Linked DNA regions of Homo sapiens: all the other regions are linked to region 2. Evidence: fine-mapped QTL for protein levels in blood plasma. A gene starts in region 2. Each other region holds a variant in brackets. All regions are shown on one strand. Distances are from middle to middle. Region 1 overlaps SMPDL3A (sphingomyelin phosphodiesterase acid like 3A). Region 2 holds the start of SMPDL3A (sphingomyelin phosphodiesterase acid like 3A). Region 3 overlaps SMPDL3A (sphingomyelin phosphodiesterase acid like 3A). Region 4 has its middle 28 kb from the start of FABP7.

The links. PIP is the chance, under the fine-mapping model, that this variant and not a neighbour inherited with it causes the effect. Protein levels are from antibody-based Olink assays in UK Biobank. Linkage for the fine-mapping came from a reference panel and not from the study's own genotypes, which makes the PIPs less certain.
Region 1: its variant is fine-mapped to the plasma level of the SMPDL3A protein (UK Biobank, PIP above 0.99). The variant lies in the coding sequence of SMPDL3A. If it changes the protein, the assay may bind it differently, which can mimic a change of level.
Region 3: its variant is fine-mapped to the plasma level of the SMPDL3A protein (UK Biobank, PIP above 0.99).
Region 4: its variant is fine-mapped to the plasma level of the SMPDL3A protein (UK Biobank, PIP 0.93).

Annotation. Positions count from the first base shown.
Region 1 is chr6:122,804,710-122,807,382 of GRCh38, forward strand. It overlaps SMPDL3A (sphingomyelin phosphodiesterase acid like 3A), which reads left to right. Exons shown (of 8, transcript NM_006714.5): 6 at 200-380; 7 at 1,524-1,648. Among named protein-coding and RNA genes, the nearest start is that of SMPDL3A, 17 kb to the left of the region's middle. The variant G/A (reference allele first, on the strand shown) is at 1,549.
Region 2 is chr6:122,788,216-122,790,902 of GRCh38, forward strand. SMPDL3A (sphingomyelin phosphodiesterase acid like 3A) reads left to right here and starts at 1,043. Exons shown (of 8, transcript NM_006714.5): 1 at 1,043-1,243. The coding sequence starts at 1,132. RefSeq lists enhancers at 853-1,354, 1,355-1,854 and silencers at 1,069-1,363, 2,469-2,687.
Region 3 is chr6:122,800,179-122,802,865 of GRCh38, forward strand. SMPDL3A (sphingomyelin phosphodiesterase acid like 3A) reads left to right here. Exons shown (of 8, transcript NM_006714.5): 4 at 1,132-1,228. Among named protein-coding and RNA genes, the nearest start is that of SMPDL3A, 12 kb to the left of the region's middle. The variant T/C (reference allele first, on the strand shown) is at 1,068.
Region 4 is chr6:122,750,344-122,753,030 of GRCh38, forward strand. It overlaps a transcript of FABP7 not described here. Among named protein-coding and RNA genes, the nearest start is that of FABP7, 28 kb to the right of the region's middle. The variant C/T (reference allele first, on the strand shown) is at 1,385.

The sequences.
Region 1 (2,673 bases), 16 kb after region 2:
ATATCATCAACAGTGTACAAATATAGTGACCCTAATAGTTTTATAATTTCATCTCTTTTTCTTATAAATAGAAGAGATGATATATTTGCTTTCTAAATTTTAATTAATATACTTTCAATCTTGGGTATCCAAATGTCATTTAGTTATGATGAATGTGCAGAAAGATTCTCATGAGGCCTTTTTGTGTTTCTTTTTCCAGGTGTATATCATAGCACATGTTCCAGTGGGGTATCTGCCATCTTCACAGAACATCACAGCAATGAGAGAATACTATAATGAGAAATTGATAGATATTTTTCAAAAATACAGTGATGTCATTGCAGGACAATTTTATGGACACACTCACAGAGACAGCATTATGGTTCTTTCAGATAAAAAAGGTAATGTAATGCTGTGTTTGCATCTCCCCAGTCTAAGAGTCTAGAGCAAAGCGGTGAATATCCAGTAAATTTGCTGATTTAGTAAATTAAACGTTTTATTTAAAAATCTGCCAGCATTAGCCTTTTCTGAATTATCCTCAATGGTTGTATGATGAGTGTCCAAATCACAACATTAGGCCTGCAGCTGGATTTCTTCAACGTAAGCTCCTATTAGCTCCACAGGGCCAGCGTTACTTATTTGCTGTCAACACAAAAGCCTCAGAAACCCTCAGCTCACTCAAATGTTCTTTTAAATCTTCGAGTTTAAAGAAATATCACTCTATTTTAACTGCTACACTCAAGTTTCTTTTGATGCTACATGTTTTATTTCTCAGAATTTAGAAAGCAAAGCACAATTTACACAACGGCTTAAAATAAAATATATTAAGCTCTTACTTGCAAGTTCTTATTGATACATATATAAGCAGAGAGAATGATACAAACAAACCTCCTATGTACTCAACACTCACATTCAACATCTATCAAGATTTTTCAGTTTTTTTGTTTTGTTGTTGAGACGGAGCCTCGCTCTGTTGCCAGGCTGGAGCGCACCCTGCGATCTCGGCTCACTGCAACCTCTGCCTCCCTGGTTCAAGTGATTATCCTGCCTCAGCCTCCCGAGTAGCTGGGACTACATGTGTGTCACCACGCCCAGCTAATTTCACCATGTTGGCCAGGAAGGTCTCGATCTCTTGACCTAGTGATCTGCCCGCCTCGGCCTCCCAAAGTGCTGGGATTACAGGCATGAGCCACTGCACCTGGCCTTATATTCTTTTAATTTTTTGCTGGAGTATTTGAAAGTGAATCTCAAACACTGGATCCATTTTGGCACTACATATTCTATATTCATTGCTAAAATATATGGATAATTTACATAACCACAAACTTAGTTAACAAAATCAACAATAATTATCTGGTATCAATAACAAAAATGTCCCTATTTTCTCCAAATTGTCTCTTTACAGTTGTTTCAAGTCAGTATCCATTAGTGATCACATATCACTTGGTTATGTCTGTTAATCTCTTAATCTGGAAACTTTATATTTTTAATATAGTTAAACTCTTATTTAAAAATGTATGTTTATGTGCATACGTTTTGTTCAGGAAGTCCAGTAAATTCTTTGTTTGT[G/A]GCTCCTGCTGTTACACCAGTGAAGAGTGTTTTAGAAAAACAGACCAACAATCCTGGTATCAGACTGTTTCAGTATGATCCTCGTGATTATAAATTATTGGTAAGTTGGCAGATTTCAGAGCTGACCCCATATTTATGCATATCTTTGCAGTTTTCATTAATTTAGTTGAATTTTTCTCAGGACAGTCATGTGAGATGTATTTTATGTTGAAATCTCCTGGCATCCTTCTTCTTTTTTATACTTGCAATGTTATCAGGACTTACTAAGTGTGAGCTGATGAAGTTAGTCTTTGGAAGGCTGTTTCTGTTCTGTTCTTCTAAGGACTTCACATTTATTTAGATGCTTTCATTGGTTAGTGCCATGTTTGTGGACTTGTATACGTACTGAAATGTTTCACTAAGCCATGTTCATTCTTCTTCTCCAGAATATAAGTATCAAGAAGAGTGTAGGCTCTGTTACCATTCCCTCTCATGAGCCATTATTTCTAAACTTTTCTGTGTCCCAGTCTATTTCTCCATGAAATGGGAATTAAAATATTATTTAATTCACTGAGTTGCTATGAGGATTGCATGAACAAATCTATGTAAAGCACTTAGAAAAACGCTTGGCTCATACTAAATGCTTAATAAATGTTAACAAACAAGATTTTATTTTCAAGTTCTTGTTCTGTTACTCAGGCTGGAGTGTAGTGGTGCGATCATAGCTTACAGCAGCCTCAAACTCCTGGGCTCAAGTGATCCTCCCACCTCAGCTTCCCATGTAGGCGGGACTACAGGCATGTACCACCAAGCCCAGCTAATTTTTATAATCCTATTGTAGAGATGGGGGGGGGGGGTCTCCCTATGTTGCCCAGGCTGGTCTTGAACTCTTGGGCTCAAGTGATCCTCCCACATTGGCCTTCCAAATTGCTGGTATTACAGATGTGAGCCACTGGGCACACCCAAAAAATTTTTTTAAAGGAAAAAAATGGTAGCTCACGCCTGTAATCCCAGCACTTTGGGAGGCCGAGTTGGGTGGATCACGAGGTCAGGAAATCGAGACCATATTGGCTGACACGGTGAAACCCCGTCTCCACTAAAAATACAAAAAAGTTAGCTCGGCGTGGCGGCGGGTGCCTGTAGTCC
Region 2 (2,687 bases):
CATGTTCTAATTCTAAGACCCTTCTCTTCCCGGCAGTTTAAAAAAAACAAAAAACAAAACGTCGTATCTTTGAGCATTGGTTTTCAAACATCACAATCACTTTAACATGACCTGAAATGCTTGTGAAAACACAAACTGCTGGGCTCCAGCAGGTTTCTGACTCAACAGGTCTAGGGTGGTGCCTGGGAATTTGCATTTCTAACTAGAGTTCCCAGGTGGTGCTAATGTTCCCAGTTCAGAGACTTCAATTCGAGATCCACTGCAGTATCCATAACTTTTGCTGATTTCCTTCAAATCATGATACTTCAGGGCTCTCTGCATCACCTCTACTGAGGAGCCCTACCCATTAAAGCTGGGGTAGGTTGGCCCAAGAATGGAACCGGGATCGTTGAGATTTCAGCACCCCAGCATTTTTTAGTGACTGAAATAATGAAAATTCTGATCAGGCTCCTGCTTGCTTGCACATTTTAACCACTCGCTTTTTGCCCAATATTCTCCTTGTTTCCACAATATAATTATAAACTGCTGAGGTACTGCTTCCTCGTCAAGAACAAAGAGGTTAACTTCAGGGTCACAAAAATGTTTGCAGAAGGGATGAATACCTCCAAGGGCTTTGCAACCAGCTGCGGATGCCTGGACGTCTAATTGCTCAAAGGTGTTATCTGAGACTGAAGAAACAGACTTTTCCCCTGGATTCTTTGAAAATCCCCCTCTCTTATTCTCTAGCAGAATAAAAACTCCCTGCTTTTTCCTTTTTACACACGGATTTGAGAGATCTTGTTCTCCCTCCTTCTGGCTTTTACTAAATTGAATGTCTTTCTCTATCCCCAAGCACCAGTATGTCAGTGTTTGACATCAACTGCACCACTGATACACGAGTCGGAATTTGAGCTTCTACAAGTACATTCCTTCCTAGGCCAAACACTGACGCTAAGAAATACGAGAACAGATCATCGCTAAACAGCAGCTGAAGGTCAGGCGAACTGACTCGCTGCGGAATCTGCCTTTGCACGTGATCAGTCGGACGTCTACACCCGCAGCCGTCTTCTGTCTCCGCCTCACCCTCAGGCCTGACGGTCCGAGTGGAGCTGCGGGACAGCCCGAACCTCCAGGTCAGCCCCGCGGCCCTCCATGGCGCTGGTGCGCGCACTCGTCTGCTGCCTGCTGACTGCCTGGCACTGCCGCTCCGGCCTCGGGCTGCCCGTGGCGCCCGCAGGCGGCAGGAATCCTCCTCCGGCGATAGGTGAGTTGTCCGCGACCCTTCTCTTCCCAGCCGGCAAAGAGCGCGGAGCGGCGGCGCCTGCGCACAGCAGGAGAAAGTGCGTGGGGGCAGCTGCCCCCGGCAGAGGCTCGGGCTAGCGGGGCCCCTGACGCGTCCGGCGTTGACCACGGCTGGTGGGCGCGGGGAGGGCGACCAAGGGACTACAGCGTTAGGGCGTCCAGCCGGGAGGCCGGGGCTGGGCGGGGGAAATGCCCTCGCCGGTGGGGGCGCTCCAAGGGCGCGTCGGCCGGATTTCGCCAGCCTGGCTTTTGTTTACATCCTGCATCTCAGTTGTTTTGTTCCTTGGGGAAGGAAGGAAAAGCTGCGGGACTCAAGGGAAGAGGAAGCTGGGAGTCCGATGTCCAGCACAGCAAGAGGCCCCTAATCGGTCCTGAATGGAGGGGGACTGCAGTTTCCCCACCAGCTCAGGGAAGTAAATTTCAGCGTGACTCACACTATCTTCTGTCTTGCTCGACCGAGATCAGTGGCTTTTTCTGCCACTCACCCAGCCAGAGCGCGAAAGCACCCTCGGGTAGACTCACCCCTTAGTCTACCGTGGAACTCACGGGGACTTCATTTCACCTGGATGTCCACTAGGTTTCCTGCGGGCGGGACCCATTTTATTCACTCCCAGCACTTAACACAGTGCCCGTTACAGTAGTGATTCTCTTAAGTGTGCCCTGGACCGGTGGCAGCAGCCGCCGCACTTAAAATTGTTAGCATTGCAAATTTCCAGCCCATCCCAGACCTACTGAATCTGAAACGCCGGCGTTGGGCTTCCACAGTATGCTGTTTAACCCACCCTCCGCATGATTCCTTTCGGCTAAGTTTGAGACTCACTGGTCCAGAATAGATACATTTTGGTGGGAGATTGTACAATGCCATCCGAGCCTCCAGTTCCAAAAATCAAGGTGCCCTCACCTCCTCAACTCCCTTTAAAAATAATTGCACTGTTAAGAGGAAAAACAAAATTAGAGAAGTGGGGTTCTGTTTTCTTTTAGGGGAGAGTTGTCCCTGAGACTCGGTAGCAGCACCTAGTGCTGAAACCTCTTTCGCTCCCTCTGTGCTTTCTCAGGACTTGGGAGCGCTCTAGGGCAAATATCTTCTCTTTGAAGGCCAAGTCCTCACGACTCAGCTGTCAGGTCTGAAGCAAAAACTGTAAATCTGGTTTCCGAACTGTGGCAAATGTCAGTCATTACAAGAAATTTCCCCAAAATGTTTATGTATACTGGTTTCTGCTTTTATTACGGCTTAGCTTGTGTTCCTTTAATTATGTGACCGGTTAGGGTTTTGAAATAAAATGTCTCACGTTGCTTGAGGCCACACAATGGCAAATTCACCTGTGTTTTAAAGAGGCCTGAATGAGCGCTTTCTGGGGACTCTGTGAGTCTTCACACCTCCTGTTTGGGAAACTGCAAGGTTGAAT
Region 3 (2,687 bases), 12 kb after region 2:
GGCGAGGCTCCCCATTTACTTCTACACTAGAGCTTATGTCATCCTGAAGATACTTTATGATAATAAAAATGTTTTGTACTTAAAATGTGTTATTTAAAAAATCAAAATATTTTGATATAATTTATGCTGCCCTAAAGAGACTTCTCCAAATCAAAAGCATGTGGTTGTAAATCTTTATTCAAAGAGTTAAGAAGCTTATAATAGTTTGAACAGTTCAGAAGACTTTGTTAAATTCTAAAACATGATGTTTTCCCGTTCCCTCGGCATGCTGCATCGGGCAGTGCATGTGCAGGCTCAAACCTGCCTTTGGCATCTCTTTAATGAGCACACTCCCACATCCTTCCCATATCCTAGCCATGCTAAAACATGAGCTTTTCTCTGTACATGGTACACACCTATGGAACTCTGTGCTTTTGCCTGTGCCTATGCCTATGCCTATGTTTGTATCTGGGCCATTGCATTTGCTTTGATGCCCTTTTGTTAAGTTGATAAAGTCCTTATTTAAGGCCTGGCTTAAATAGTCTCTTCACTCTCTAATTCCCTGGGCTACACCTTTTTTGTTTGTTTGTTTGTTTGTTTTTTTGTTTTTTGAGCCAGAGCCTCACTCAGTTGCCCAGGCTGAAGTGCAGTGGTGCGATCTTGGCTCACTGCAACCTTCGCCTCACGGATTCCAGTGATTTTCCTGCCTCAGCCTCCCAAGTAGCTATGATTATGGGTGCTCACCACCATGCCTGGGTAATTTTTGTGTTTGTAGTAGAGATGGGGTTTCACCATATTGGCCAGACACTTCTTGAACTTCTGACCTCAAGTGATCCGCCTGCCTTGGCCTCCCAAAGTGCTGGGATTATAGGCATGAGCCACTGCACCTGGCCCTTGGCTACACTTGATTGTTCTTGCTTCTAGGCTCCCCGGACCTCTGGGTAGTGCCCAGCACATTGTCTTATAGTTAATTGGTTACATTTTATCCCCCAGTCTCCAACTAAGTTATAATTCCTTGAAGATGAAGTCTATCTAATAATCATCCTTGCATCTCTAGATGCCTAACGTAGTAGTCAGTGCTCAAGTAG[T/C]GTTTACATTAATTCAGCTGTGTATCTTTAAATTTCAATGGTGGATTATATTGTTTGTGGCCAGGATCAACTGCCTGTAGTCACCAGTAAAGTGTACAATGCAGTAGCAAACCTCTGGAAACCATGGCTAGATGAAGAAGCTATTAGTACTTTAAGGAAAGGTAAGTGAAAGACTTAGTTATTCCTATTTTGCCTCAATTTTTATTCATGTTATTTAGACTTAAATTTTTAATGTTTGCTTGAGTGTGCCACTTCTGGAGCACAGCCCCCAGTTTTTGTGGAGGACAGTGAGTAGTAATGCTGCCTGTGACACAGGTCGTGAACCTGTTTATCTTGCAGGGAGCTCTTCCTGTTTTTCTTCTATTCTTTTTTCTTCTTCTACTCTTAATTAGGTAGGTATGTTCCCCATGGAGCAAAAGCTGAACTTTGGATTTGAATGTAAATAAAAGTGTATGTTTCTAATTGGAAAATTGATTGAGAAGAGAGAATGGACACTAACTTCTAACCAAGCAGCACAATTTTATAAAACAAAGAGCTGGTAAAGTGAGGATAACTAAGCTTTTAACATGGACTTTGAGGTGCTTGGGAAAGTAATGCATAATTAGTGCATAGTAAGGCCTTCCCTGGGTCATGTCTAAAGGCCCTCTGCTCCACTGGCTCTTGACACATCATTATGTAAATCCCTGACATTTTGTGAGCTTAACTGAGGTGTGCAGCTGTTAAACTAAGACTTTGGTGTTTTCAGAATGTTGAGACAAATATTAAGTTAATGGCTAGACTTCTCTCAGTTAAAATACTTCTTTCGGTATTTTTGTTAACCCTTTGGCTTTTGCCACTATTTTGTTATTGTTTTTGCTAGCATGCAGCAAATCATAGTATATATGAATTTGAGACATGATAGCTTAGAATTAGACTATGGTTCTGATTAATCTAGGGAACTATATCTAGTCTTTTTTTTTTTTTTTTTTTTATTAAGATGGAGTTCCACTCTTGTTGCCCAGGCTGGAGTGCAATGGCATGGTCTTGGCTCACAGCAACCTCTGCCTCCTGGTTTCAAGCGATTCTCCTGCTGCAGCCTCCTGAGTAGCTGGGATTACAGGCACCTGCCACCACACCTGGCTAATTTTTGTATTTTTAGTAGAGATAGGGTTTCACTATGTTGGTCAGGCTGGTCTCGGGCTTCTGACCTCAGGAGATCCACCTGCCTCAGCCTCCCAAAGTGCTGGGATTACAGGCATGAGCCACCGTGCCCGGCCTATGTCTAGTCTTACACTTCACATCCTACAAGACACGTGGAGAGCTTATGCAGGTTGAAGGGAGAGCCATAAAGAATGATCAAGATCCCTAAAGAAATGCTCTGCCTTCTAAGGAGACTCAGCATAAAGCAGGGGAGGCAGAAAAAAGCTGAGAAGTGGAATGCAGGCCCTAAGAAAAAGCCATATGAGTTTCATAATGATATCCATTCCAATGATAGCCCTCAAAGATCCAGTTAAACACTGGAGTATAATATTAAGTTAAAAATCATAGAAGCCATCCTGAGAAAGTCTTAAAGGCAAAAGTGATTTGGGGCAGAGATGTCTTGCATGAGGGGCCTCAAACTTTGTCATCCCAGAGGCCCTA
Region 4 (2,687 bases), 38 kb before region 2:
GTGAAAATATTAATAATTATTATGAAATAATCATTTTGCTAAAATGAAAGCAAGAAAAACACATTTTATGTAATAAATAATAGATCAAAAATTAAACTTGTCTTTATTACTGATTTATACATTAATCATGCATCAACAGTACAACCAGACATGTGCAATAATAACTAAATTCATTTGTCTTTGATATCTTGCTAGTTTTCAGCCTTATGAAACCATAGTGTTTGTTACCCATGTCTTTGGATTTTTTCATTAGGAAAGTGTATTTGGCAAGGTAGGGAGATAAGACATATGTTTAATGGTATGTGAGCCTTATTTTTACCCTCCCCTGGGCCCCACTGCTGTTAAAGGAAGAACTAAACAAAGAAGACAAGAAACTTGGTCTAAACCGGAATGTTGTGTGATAATTTAAGGTGTTGATAAAAGCAGACTTTAGTCTCAGGCAAAGCCAGTGAAGAGAGAAAACTGAAGTCAGGAGTTAGCTGATGAGTGGAAGAATAAGGGAAAGTTGAGAGACTACGCTGAAAAGTTCGGATTTTGAAGCTTTGCCTGTTCTTTTGGACTGCTTGAGTTACTCTGACTTTTTCTGTGTTTTCATGCCAATTATGCTGTTATTTTCAGTCTTTATTAGCTGGTTTATATATCACCTCATAATTCCCAATAGATATCTTTAGTGGGTTCACATGTCTGTGTGAAAATTTAGGTATGCAATAAAATCATATGTATTATGAATAAATAAATATGTGTGCTTAAATTTTTTTCTTTGAGTTCTCTAGTCTAGAAGGTATCATAAAATTGTTGTCAATTAGTTCCACTTACTCTAAATTAATTCAGAATTTTTATTCTTAACCTCTGCATGCCTGTTTTCTCATCCATAAAGTGAGTACTATAGTGGTATTTACATCATAGGGTGGTTGTGAGAATTAAGTGTGTTAATATACGTAAACTACACAGAATATGTAAACTACATGCCTGGTCCCTACATAAATGTGTGCTTCTATTCTTACTGCCTCATCCTTCCTGTTGTCCCTATATTGCAGGTGATGGTGATGGGCTGTGAGGAAGCCAGGTACTGTGGGTGCATCTTGTCCTCAATTTTCACCATCTATGCATGCAGGCATCTATGCCGAGAAGTCTTCCTTTAAAGCTTCCACATAGTTACTACCACATCCTGTCTAAAAGACCCTTCTGGTTTCACTTTACACTTAGTTATTTTCACTTTTTTTGAGCACATAAGAAACATTCAGCTCGGAAATTCTGTGTCAGAGACATCTATTTAAATAATGCAAATGGCACATTCTATTATTATGCTCTGCTATGCTGCAGAACTCAACAAAGCTTTCCACCTTCCACTCCACCTGGGAACTGAGGTACAAACGCTTCAACC[C/T]TCATATCCTTCCAAATTTAAGAAGGATTTCTACCTTGTACACCTATTTCAGCACTCAGCCTGAGGAAGGGAAGCCGGCAAAGGAATCTGGGGCTCCTCAGGGCCTTGCTAGCTCCCAGGCTCTCTTGCTTCCTCCCCATCTCCCTCCTTGCTTTCCTCTCATCCCTCTGCCCCAACCCAGGTCATCTTTATTTCCTACAGATCTTATAAAACCTGAGCTGGAGGACTGGCTCTTATGTCAGCAGACATTCTCTCAGGCCCATTGTTTATATCCCTGGGTCCCCAAACCCAAATGCTTTGACTTCTGTAACTGAAAAACCACCACCCACCCCAGCTTTCCACCCCTAACCCCACCACCATCTCCCAATTTTCTTTGTTAGCAAACCTCCCCTAGCAACTTTTCTAATGTACTAATTTGATTGAGGAAAAGGCAAAGGAGCAAATATAAAAAAATCAATGATTTATATTTCAAAATGTTATTTTGTTCTAGTAACTCTGTGTTCTGAGGAAGAAAATTGACTTCTCATTTAGATGTGTTCATCCTTGCCTGCAATCTTTAAAAGGGTGAGAATTAGTTTTCTGTACAGAATCTATTTCACAAAAATAGTAAGTCCCTCAATCATGCATGCATGCACTCTGTGGTTCTATGGGTAATATTTCCTAACCCCTCTGCAGGGTTAAACCTAAATAGTGGGTTACATCTGCAATCTCTTTGGCTAGAATTGTCAACATTTTATATATAGGGGATTTCTTTCCTCTAAATGTTGGCCTAAGCCATTCCCACCCCCAACCTTACCCTCCTGGAGATATTGGCATGATGCTGGCTGAATTTCTCCTTTATGAATAAGCTCTGAGGAAACTTCTTGCATAAGGGGTGAAGAGTTGGTTTTTCTATAGATAGAATCTCTTGGACCTTTGTCTAAGCTAGTACACTTCTGAAAGTGAAAGGGGACACTTAATAATTATGCCAGGACACCATGGGTGAATTTGGATAGTCTCCAGCGAAGTAAGCCTTGTGGCTCTATTTAGAGTTTACAGACAGTGTAGTCTGTTTCCCAACCCAAAATTTTAGCCATCTCTACCCCCTCTACATTGTTATTGCCTAGTCTTTTGCCATCACCTGCTTAGTTCAAGAAAGTTATTAGTCAAGCTGAGGCTTGCATAGGGTTAGTGGTCTCTCTCTGGTTTGTTGAGTCCACTAACTAAGCCTGTGTTGTTTCCATTGTTTTTTGCTGTGGTTTCTTTAAGAGTCCCAGCTAAAGACAAAATGCCATTTTCATAAAGGCAAAGCAAAAGAAAGATG